Linked DNA regions of Homo sapiens. The protein of the gene in region 1 purifies or fractionates together with the protein of each later gene. This does not show direct contact. Each region holds a gene or a part of one and is shown on either strand. Other genes may lie near its edges. The genes, in order: SMARCA1, CECR2 and HMGXB4.

Region 1 (3,754 bases):
AATGTGGCATTTGCCAGTGAGTTTTAACTATGGAATATCATGTGGCACAAGAATGGTTTTTACTTCAATAGGATCATGGTAGCAGAAATGTGGAGAGGACCGTGTGTCATTCTGGCTATGATTTTATATTGTTTACTCTTGAAATAACTCTAAAGATTGATATGTGTATATACAGCCTTAGTAATTAATTTTTCTCATCAGTTTACTCTTAGTTTATCTCTTGATTTATAGGTTCCAAGGAATCCTGATATCCCAAATCCAGCTCTGGCTCAAAGAGAAGAGCAAAAAAAGATTGATGGAGCTGAACCTCTTACACCAGAAGAGACTGAAGAAAAGGAAAAACTTCTCACACAAGTAAAATATTTTCAATGGCTGTAATACTTACAGTCAATCAATAGAAAAAAAGAAAATATAGATCACACTTTTTATTGTATGGGCCTAGTATCCTAGTGTGACACACCAACAAAACTCAGGGCTATTTTGTAAACATGTTTAGACCAAATCTCCTTATTTTTAAAAATTGATCTTATAGAATATGCCCTTTTGGAAATAGTGGATAGTATGTATATGCAAAATATAAGTGTCAAGTATTAGCAATTTGACATACATTTTGCCAATTATAATAAGGTCAGTGAATCCACATTTGAATTCTGATAGACAGTAGTTATTAACATATTCTTTTTTGTTTTTTGAGACAGTCTCGCTCTGTCACCCAGGCCGGAGTGCAGTGGTGCGATCTGAGCTCACTGTATCCTCCACCTCCCAGGTTCAAGTGATTCTCCTGCCCAAGCCTCCCGAGTAGCTGGGATTACAGGCACCCACCACCGTGCCTGGCTAATTTTTGTGTTTTTAGTAGAGATGGGGTTTTGCCATGTTGGCCAGGCTGGTCTCAAACTCCTGACCTCAAGTGATCCACCCACCTCGGCCTCCCAAAGTGCAACTGATACTACAGGTGTGAGTCACCGTGCCAAGCCTGTTATTAACATATTCTTGAAAATTTAAATTTCTTTTGTTTATAGATGTGAATTGTCTCCTGAAGTTATATTCTACTAATTTTTTATTAATGGAATAATTTCATAATTTTCAAAATTCTTTTTATCTTTTTTTATAATTTTCATACAATGATGAGAGATTTCTGAAGCTTTTATTATTATTATTATTATTTAAGGTGATCATTGTATAACAATTATTAAATTAGGAAGGTTTCCATTTGAACAAAATATTAATGCTTTTAAGTCATTATTGCTATCATGAGTTTTACGAGTGTTCTACTTCTAAAATAAACTATAGAAGATAAAAATTTCAGCATAGAAGGCTTGCAAAATAAACAAAATGTGTACCGTAGGACATTACTTTAGTATAGAGGGTTGCCAGCAAGATTTATTTATTCAACAAATTTTGAACAATGTGCGATGCATAGTAGTAGGTAATTCTCCACGTTAATTATTGAAAGATAGTTTTTATATTTGTATATTATTTATTATATAGGTTTTTTTTGCTATAACGTAATTTTATTGTATGGATTTTCACAAATTACATTCATAAGTTTTTGAGCCAAATGCCTGGAAGTAATAAAGTTTAGTTTGAAAATATAATGGCAGATGGCTGAATATTAGAACTTACCACAGAATAAAATAAAACATTTAAATATTCATGTTCTATTTTCAAAATGTATTTCCTGAATGTAAAAGTAAAGTTATGGCTTTAGAATGCTACATGACTTGGAGTATATTGTGAATGTACGGTATAACATGAATATACAGTCTCAACTGAGATAATATTTTAGTTTGTAATTAGAAATATAATCAGTTTTCTGCTTCTCCTAGTATATGAATTCATTTTTGTCCTTCTCTGCTGCCTTAAATAATTAATCTTTTTCAAAAAACCATGGCAGTACGTAGGAACAAAATGTGGGGTCATCTGAAATCTTTATCAACTAAAAGCCAGGGATAGAGTTTTGCAGTGTCTGGAGTATCACATTTATGTGAGTTGGGGCTCGAGGAGTGGAAGACAAATTCTTGGTCTTGTGACTTCACAGACATGCTAATAATGCCAAGGGAATTTAAAACACTGGCTAAAGTGTTTTATGTTTTAGTAAAGAAATTGAGTGGCTCCAATAACGTTCTGCTTGTAGAAGTTCTATTTATGAACATAATTTAGAACAGAAATTATTTATTCACACTAGTTCAGAATGATGTAAAGAGCTACAATTTTTTTTTGCATTATCTTTTGGTTATTCCTCAGTGTTCTTTTGATTTAGTGCATCCACATTTCTCTCTTTTAATTTATGTAGGAACAGATCTGTGAAAAAAATCATTGAAGTACTAGAATATCACGACTTCAGCATTTATATTAGCATTTTTATTTTCATGCATTTGTATTTTAATGTAGGCATCTATAAAATATGAAATTAAAAACTACAGATCTTCGAACTATGTATCAACATTCTCTTTGTAATAGAAAAGCAGTTATTTCTATAACAACTCTCACTCAACTTTTGATTCCAACATAAAATATGTGCAATTTTATAAGGAGAAACATTTTAAGTCTTTTAAAGTGTTTTTTAATGTATCATTGTATAGAAGTAAATAGGGCAATAAATGGATTTATTAATTTAACCTCTATTGATAATGCTTAACTTTTTGTTCACAGGGTTTCACAAACTGGACTAAACGAGATTTTAACCAGTTTATTAAAGCTAATGAGAAATATGGAAGAGATGACATTGATAACATAGCTCGAGAGGTAGAGGGCAAATCCCCTGAGGAGGTCATGGAGTATTCAGGTTTGTATATAATTTGAAACATGGTGTTGTATTTTAACGTTATTCATTTATTTAGCATCAATTTAATTGTACCTTTGTTCAGAGATGTTTTAAACTTTTATGAATAAGACATAGATGAGAGTATAAACTATAATTGTATTTCTATGAAAAGGTTATAAGAAAGGTTATAAGATTTATCCTAACAAACTGACTGCTATTGTCTCTATCACCTAGCTAAAAGAGGCAAATAAAGCTCTGATAAAACAAGGGTGGCTCTTGGATAAGCATTGACAAAATTAGTTTCCCACCTTCCCACCTCTGGAATTTGGTCTTCTGGTTCAGTTCTGAGATTCACATTCAGTGGATTGAATTCGTGCCTTTCTTTCTAGGTCGTCCTTAAAGTAGAGAGTTCCTGTCAGGCCCATTTAGATGCTCAAACACCCTCAGAGTTCCACCCTATTCCAGAGAGTTCCTGTGGGTCCCATTAACTTGGGGCTAGCGGGCGTAGAGCTGAAAAGATTGCTTTAATCAATCTGTTAACTGGTCCTCAAATCCTCTCCCTCTCTTACTCACCTGTGTTGTTGAGCTCGACCAGAATCAGTTTAGCTGCTGAAGCATATGGATTTTTTTTACACTTACTGGTTTATTATAAAGGGTATTGTAAAGGATACAGATGAAGCGTGTAGGGCAAAGTATGGGCCAAGAGGGCGCAGCGCTTTGGTGCCCTCCCTGGGCGAAACCTCTTCGTGTTTAGCTATCCAGAAATCTTATTAAAAATAGGTAAATATGTCTAGCAAGTTTTCTATATGTAGTACATGGGACTTTTCTAACTTCCAAATAGGTTCAGCTCTTAAACTTATCATTTGAAACAAGATGTTTAGAATCTAGAGCATTTTTTGTCATTGAAACAATGGCAAAGTAGGTTTAAGTTTACAAAGTAGGTTTAAGTTTCTATGATAGCCCCTGCCCCAAATCTATTTAACCCTACCA
Region 2 (3,754 bases), on another chromosome or scaffold:
ACATATGCTGTCCGTGGAAAAGGAAGCTAATCGGAAGCATCCATGATACAGAGAAATGAAAGCCAAGACACCAGTTCCAGGATGATGGAAGTTCATATCCGTACGCAAATGCTGAACCTGGTGCTGCTGCCTAGGGCTCAGGCAGATTTGAGAGTTGAGTAGGGAACACAGGTGCCTCTAAGGTATAATGCACAAAAATACAGATTTTCTCTCAGAGAGGTTTTAATTTTAAATTTGATGTATTTGCAAGTGGATTGAGTTTTGAGCCTGTGTTCTCACTGGATCCTAATTCTTGTTAGAAACCTATCACTGGCATAACCTGGTTTAGAAGAGTGAAGAGGACAGAAGGATTGTGGATGGGTCTGCCCTTTAGCTAGTATCCGCTAACATGGGGCATTACTACTTCAGTTTCTGTGTTTGTGCAGAAGCAGGGAGGAGGTAAAAAGCTAGTTTGGAGCTGGTTAGACCTGGTCTAGGCCCAGAGAATTTGGCCACTGACAGCCTTTCTCTTTTCCTGGTAATGCTGGTTTGAATCAGAGGCCTCTCACTTCTCCTTAACAGGAGCACTGACACTGTGGGCCTCTCCCCATGACTACCCCAGGGGCCTGGGTGGGAGTGGCTGTAAGCAGCAGTTGGGCCATTGCCCCCTTTCCTTCTGCCCTCGTGGTCCTTGAGCAGTTGTGTGCACACTCTTCCAGGTAATCCTGTCTCCTCTCTCTCCCAGTGACCGCCCCAATCAGCTGTTGCTAGAGCGATGCTGTGAACGATACAGGAAAAGTCAGTAAATCCCTTTATCCTTAATCTCCCTTCTTGGTTTTCGACAGAAAATATTAAGGAAGAGCAATAGGAAATAGAACTACTGTATTATAACACTGTGAACAAGAACATCAGCAGCAGCAGAATTGTCAGCCTTCCTGCGTCCTGTGTGGGAATGTGTCCATGCCTTATAGGTACTAGTGCTTCGTCCATTGTCCAGGGAGTGTCCTGAGCTTTCACTGGTCTTTGAAGTGCAGATCTGCTATAAGCTGTCTGGAGCTGCAAGGTTGCAGGAATCCACAGGAGCGTGAGCTGCTGTGAACCCCTAGCCCACCCATCCCCAAGCAGGATCTTCTTCTCACCTTTTCTTCCTCCTCTAGCACTTCTCTTTCCAAGTGTCTTAAGCAGATGCAATGTCTTAAAGCAGATGCAAATGCATTTGCCATCTTCTCCATTAGGAAAATGATGGTTATGTGATATGTTATATTTAGGAAGTAGTGTGTAAGGTATCCTGAAAAGGTTTGCTCTCAAGCTAGAAGGACATTTCACCCTGTGGGTCACTGTCACCTTGTCAGCGTGCCGGCTCTCAGTGGTCCCCAGGAGGATGGGGATAGCTGAGATCGTGGAGAATGGGAAATACCATTGCATCTCTTTGATTTAACACTCATGGCTCACCTTTAGTAGAGTTGTTAATAAGTTAGAAACTTGTGTCCCTAAGGCCCAAGAGAAAAGATGAGCTTCTTGGGAGGATTCTGGGTTTGTTTTCCCCTCAGAATTAAAAAATAGTTTTTAATTCAGCTACTTTTTCCCCTCAGTTAAAAGGTAGCAGGAGCTATTGGCTGAAATTTGTTACAGTGAATGAATGTGGAGAATAAATAAGAACAAACCCTGTAGGATTCTTGTTGACGTAACTTTCCATCCCACCTCTCCGCCTCTCCTTCATCACCAGCCTTCATCAGGTTGGTTTAGTTTACCTGGCCGTACACACGAGCTGCTCATCAACAGTTCGTATCTTCTCACTGAGCCCGGGCCAGATGCTCTCAGAAGGCCTTCTCATGCTCCTCTTCGTTAGGCTTAGTGAAAACCTTAAGACCTGCAGTTTGTGCCCCTCAGTTCAGTCAGACCTCAGCTTTAAATGTCGATTTACTCTGTCTTGTTCCCTGAAAGTGTTTCTTGTGACTAAGCATTTGGTGTCATTATCCCATGCCATTTATCTGCTGTATAGTTACTATATTATTTTTGCTGATTCCTACTGCTGGCAGATGCCATCCCAGGCCCACAAAATCCCAGTGTTGCAGTCACCACAGCTGTCAGAAACAAGTTTGCAATCCATACTTCTTGGTTCAATTTTTTTTTTTAATGGACATTCAAATCTGTAAATACTACACTGCTCTTAAGACCTGATTTGAAATTTCACAGGAAGGCCTAATCCTATAGTCACAAGGTAAGGACAGTTGAGTAGTGTAAGAACCCCAACCTGCTTGCAGAGAACCTTGGTTTTCATAGAAAGGAAAGGCTGAAGGTTTTCTAGCATTGTTGCCCTTCTTTGTCTGTCAGTCAGTTCACCCTCTGTGATTCTCCATGGACCCGCATTGCAGAAAATCAGTCCCATATATTAGTGAGCCATGTACTGCCCAATCCGGGGGCTCCTGGGGTGTGGTGTGTCCACCAGTGACTCTCCGGACACTAGCTTCAGTAAGGATACTTCTTATTTCGGTTGAGAATGCAGAGGCTTTTATTCGTGGACTCACATCACTGCATAGCACAAAGAATGTGATTGCCATTTGCTGCGTGAGAAAAAGCTGGGCTCCCTATTTCTTTTTTGGGTTGGACTCTGCCGTGCAGCCATAGGACACCAAGCCTCACGCACTTTCCCCTTGGGACAGTAGTGTTTGGGTGAATGTTACTGCATCCCGTTTTTTTTCTTTTCTTTTTTTTTTTTTTTTTTTTGAGACGAAATCTTGCTCTTGTCCCCCAGACTGGAGTGCAATGGCACGATCTCGGCTCACTGCAACCTCCACCTCCCAGGTTCAAGGGATTCGTCTGCCTCGGCCTCCCAAGTAGCTGGGACTACAAGCGCGCACCACCACTCCCAGCTAATTTTTGTATTTTTAGTAGAGGCGGGGTTTCACCATGTTGGCCAGGCTGGTCTCAAACTCCTGACCTCAGGTGATCCACCCGCCTTGGCCTCCCAACATGCTGGGATTACAGGCGTGAGCCAACACACCGGACCTTCATTTTTTAAATTAAGCTGGGACACAAGTTTTGCCTCCAGGCTGGATGTTGATCCTGCTCTGTGCTAGACAGATGTGCGGAGGGACTGTTCCGGGCTCGGCTTGACCTTTTCCTACCTAGTTTCTCCCTCTTGTCCTGCACAAGAGGACTAACTGAACTCTAACGTCAGAACGGCTGACGAGCAGTTGATTGTCCTTGCTTGTGTTGTTGACAGGGGTGGGTGGGGTGGGAGCAGGGGTATGGATATTGCATAAGTTATTGAAATGCTGACCCCCGTTCAGGAAACCATGCAGCCCCTTCCCTTCCCTTCCCTTCCCTTCCTTTCCCTTCCCTAGCCAGGGCTCAGGTACCTCACTCTCCTGCCTTGTGCGTAGCTCCTGGGGCCCCGGTCAGTCCCCAGCAGCCTTGGCACACAGTGTCTGGAGCCTCTGCTCCTGCTGCAAAAGCAGAAACCATGTGAACCTTCTGGCCAGTACTGGAAAGGGGAATGCTATTTATTTTTATATTGTGTATATTTTGTCGTGGTCTGCTGATTCCCTGTTTCACTGAGAGCGACACTTACCTCAATAGTTAGTTCAATATTGTGTGTTGGATAATTTTTTAAAAGAACTTTTTAAAAAGCTTTTTGATCCTTGGAGGTCTGTAGATTTATTTCCATATGAACTGGTTATTTTGTATAAAGTACATGCTTAAAATAGCAAGGCTCCTCTGTGTGTGTGGTGTGTCTGTCCATGTGTCATTTCCATATCAGGGCAAACCCAGA
Region 3 (3,754 bases), on another chromosome or scaffold:
AGGAAACCCTTTTCTTCAGTATGTGAATTTGGATCTATAGTATATTGGCCAAGAATTGTGATTAGTGTGACAGCTATAGTTAGCCTTATAGAATAGGAACATTAACCTTTTACAGTATTGTGTTTGAGAAAACGTTGTTAAACACCTTCCTTGTAAGTTTTATAATATGGCCAAACAAGCTGTGAAATCTCTCAAGCATATATACTTTCTAATGTTCTCAGTATTTAATAGTGAGATTGATTGTACAGTTGGGAAAGATTTGGCAGTGTGTAGACTTCCACAAATTTTTCTTTCATCATGTATTCTAGCAAATGTCAGGCATATAGATAAGCCATTATTAAAATATTAGTATGAAATTTAACAAACATACCACAAATTTTATCTCCAAATAAGTGCAATCTCATTCAAAGCAGTTACCTTGGAAGGTGTTCTAGGAATGTTTCTATTCATCAAATGATTTCAGAATCGCTTTTGGAATTAAAGTTGGAGTCATCACATAAGCTTTTTATTGCCATCAGCCTCGGTCTTTGTCCTTTGAGGGTCGTTATTTTATGGGAACAACATGAAGAACTAAGGCAGCTAGGCAGAGTGCACGATCGAGCTTTGTTTAAAGCAAGATACAACTCTGAAGTTACGAGACAGGACTGTGTGGCTGGTTTGGTTTTCATCACAAAACCTGACTCTTAAGGCAAACAAAAGCCCCCAAGGGCTTTTAAAGCACCATACATTCATGTCATATTTTTTGTTGTTGTTGAAACGGAGTCTCGCTCTGTCGCCCAGGCTGGAGTGCAGTGGTGCAATCTCGGCTTACTGCAAGCTCCACCTCCCGGGTTCACACCATTCTCCTGCCTCAGCCTCCCGAGTAGCTGGGACTACAGGCGCCCACCACCATGCCCGGCTAATTTTTTATATTTTTAGTAGAGACGGGGTTTCACCGTGTTAGCCAGGATGACCTCGTGATCTGCCCGCCTTGGCCTCCCAAAGTGCTGGATTACAGGTGTGAGCTACCCCACCCGGCCACATTCATGTCATTTTAATAACTGTAGGGCCAAAAAGGACTAGGAGTAGATGAAAGACGGAGAATCATATTTTGATGCTTCCAGATGAGTTTTGGAGGAAAGCCATACTGAAAATATTTGTTTGTTAGATTAAGATTATTAAGTGATAACTCTTTCTTTATTTTAAATAGTTAACTTTTTCTGTAAGGGAGCAACATATGTTCTTTCTTGGGCCCATAATGCATGGCCCTGAAAGTCAGGGCTACCTGGGTTGTGGTTATAACTGCCAGGGTCTGGTATTATTACTAGCTTAGTGGTGGTACCCTCAGCAAGTTACAGTTTCTCTGACTTTATTTTTTCCCATGCTCACAATGAGAAATTTGGATAGATGAATCTAATTGCATGTCTCTTTCTAGATAGGAAAAACTTAACTTTTTCCCCTTAGACCACGTATAATTGTGAAATGGAATGCATAGAAATATAATCTTCTGTTTTATATATTTCTTGTTGAACTGACTTTAAAAATAATTTGATTTTGTTTCTCAAAAATCATATATTCCTTTTGGCATTGTCAGAATATAGTGAAGAACAAACATGCCTCAGGTAGTACAGAGCTGTTTGTTGAAGTGAAGGCGTTGCATCTGACAGTGACTACCAAAGAATTGTCTTCAGTTATTTGTTCACTTCTCACCTTGAACCCAAAGAATGTGAACAATCAAATAATGAGAAGCTACAAATGACAATAAAAGCAGGATGAGGGAAATTACAAGATTAGAAATCAAAACCAGAGAAGCAAAAAGAACATAGATTTGGCTTTTGGGTTTCTGGCTCCAAAGTTTAAAAGGAAATTATGTGGTTCAGATTTTCAAAGATGAGAAAAATAGACACCCCAGGAGTGGTAAAGATTCTCTTAGCACTTAATTCTGAAAGAAATGTGTAACATGGGATTGTATATAGGGAGAAGGAAGGTCTTTACAAGTAATTTAGCATGTGGTTTTTACCTACTAAAATTAAAACTGATGTTCATCTCTGAGTGGTAAGTAACATGGATTAAAAATGTATTTTCCTGGCCAGGCATGGTGGCTCAAGCCTGTAATCCCAGCACTTTGGGAGGCTGAGGTGGGCAGATCGCCTGAGGTCAGGAGTTCGAGACCAGCCTGGCCAACATGGTGAAACCCCATCTCTACTAAAAATACAAAAATTACCCGGGTGTGGTGGCAGGCACCTGTAATCTCAGCTACTCAGAAGGCTGAGGCAGGAGAATCGCTTGAACCCAGGAGGCGGAAGTTATAGTGAGCCAAGATTGCGCCACTGCACTCCAGCCTGGGCGACAGAGTGAGACTGTATCTCAAAAAATATATATATATATATTATCCTGTTTAGGAAAGCTGGTTAGTAGTTTGGAACTCTTCCCTTGATGAAAAAGTTTAGGTATCCTTCTATTTTATTACTATGGATTCAGGGTTACTAAACCTGGGTTCTAATCAAGTCTTACCCTGTTGTATCTTCTATGCGGCATTAGCCAAAAAAGAAGAACATGTCGGCCTACCAGGTGTTCTGTAAAGAGTATCGCGTGACCATTGTGGCTGACCATCCAGGTATAGGTAAGAACATTACTGATCTGTAGCGCTTTTGCTTTCCATTTATATCTTGAAGCAGTGCGATTAATTTCTTCTTCCTGTAGCATTAGAGCATAAATCTTGTTTCTTTCCTCAGTTCTGCAAATCACTTTAGATTTTGCCTTAGTTTATCTCATCTGTAAAAGAGATGAACTTTCTATACATATCTCTTAAACGGATAAGGTGGGAAACTATGTAAAAATAAATGTTGTAAAGCACATACATAAATGCACAAAAATATACAATTGTTTATTTCCAAGATTCTACAATTGGCCTTTTCCTTAAATTGCCCTTGGATGTAAAGTTATAATGAGATATCTTGTATTATATTGTTGTAAAGATGCTCTTCAACTTATGATAGTGTTACATCCTGATAAACCCATTGAAAATTGAAAATACTGTAAGTCAAAAATGCATTTAATACACCTAGCCTACAGAACATCACAGCTTAGCTGAGCCCACCTTAAATGTGCTCAAGACACTTACATTTGCATACACTTGGGCAAAGTCATTTAACACAAAGCCTGTTTTATAATAAAGTGTTGAATATCTTATGTAATGTATTGAATACTGTACTGAAAGTGAAAAACAGAATGGCTGTATGGGTACTAGAAGTACAGTTTTTACTGAGTGCATATTGCTTTTGCATCCTTATAAAGTTGAAAAATCAAAAGTCAAACCATCATAAGTCAGGGACTGTATTTGTCTCTGTATTAGAAGTTAATGAGGTAAGAAAAACACTATACCAGAGATCCTGGACACATGTCACTTAACCGCTACAAATTTCATTTGCCTAATGTGTAAAATCGCTGCCCTACCAACTCCAAAAGACTGCAGTGTTAGGCACACATGAATATGCTTTATAAAGCATAAAACTCTTATACAATGGAAGGGTAAGATTACACATCTAGAGGATTGCTTCTGAGCTGCTCTAGGGAAATCCTTCTTTGGTTCTAATCATTCAGAAATTTGGTAAAAACCTAACATCTTTTTTCAAATTCTACACATATTTTTTAACCTAAGTTGATAGGCCTTGTATTGTGGGATCAAATTAAAGACACCAGAGGCAGGATGCAGTGGCTCATGCCTATAATCTCAGCACTTTGGGAGGCTGAAGCAGGAGAATTGCTGGAGCCC

Evidence for each region.
Region 2: the proteins of SMARCA1 (region 1) and CECR2 purify together in Homo sapiens (affinity purification with mass spectrometry; 3 studies listed by BioGRID and IntAct, with this or other methods). This does not show direct contact.
Region 3: the proteins of SMARCA1 (region 1) and HMGXB4 purify together in Homo sapiens (affinity purification with mass spectrometry; 2 studies listed by BioGRID and IntAct, with this or other methods). This does not show direct contact.

The regions. Positions count from the first base shown.
Region 1 is NC_000023.11:129,467,804-129,471,557, reverse strand, and holds part of SMARCA1 (SWI/SNF-related matrix-associated actin-dependent regulator of chromatin subfamily A member 1), read left to right. Parts: intron 1-231; coding exon 232-354; intron 355-2,652; coding exon 2,653-2,785; intron 2,786-3,754.
Region 2 is NC_000022.11:17,554,460-17,558,213, forward strand, and holds the end of CECR2 (chromatin remodeling regulator CECR2), read left to right. Parts: 3' UTR 1-3,692; downstream 3,693-3,754. UniProt on the Homo sapiens protein: Regulatory subunit of the ATP-dependent CERF-1 and CERF-5 ISWI chromatin remodeling complexes, which form ordered nucleosome arrays on chromatin and facilitate access to DNA during DNA-templated processes such as DNA replication, transcription, and repair.
Region 3 is NC_000022.11:35,281,442-35,285,195, forward strand, and holds part of HMGXB4 (HMG domain-containing protein 4), read left to right. Parts: intron 1-2,520; coding exon 2,521-2,602; intron 2,603-3,754. UniProt on the Homo sapiens protein: Negatively regulates Wnt/beta-catenin signaling during development.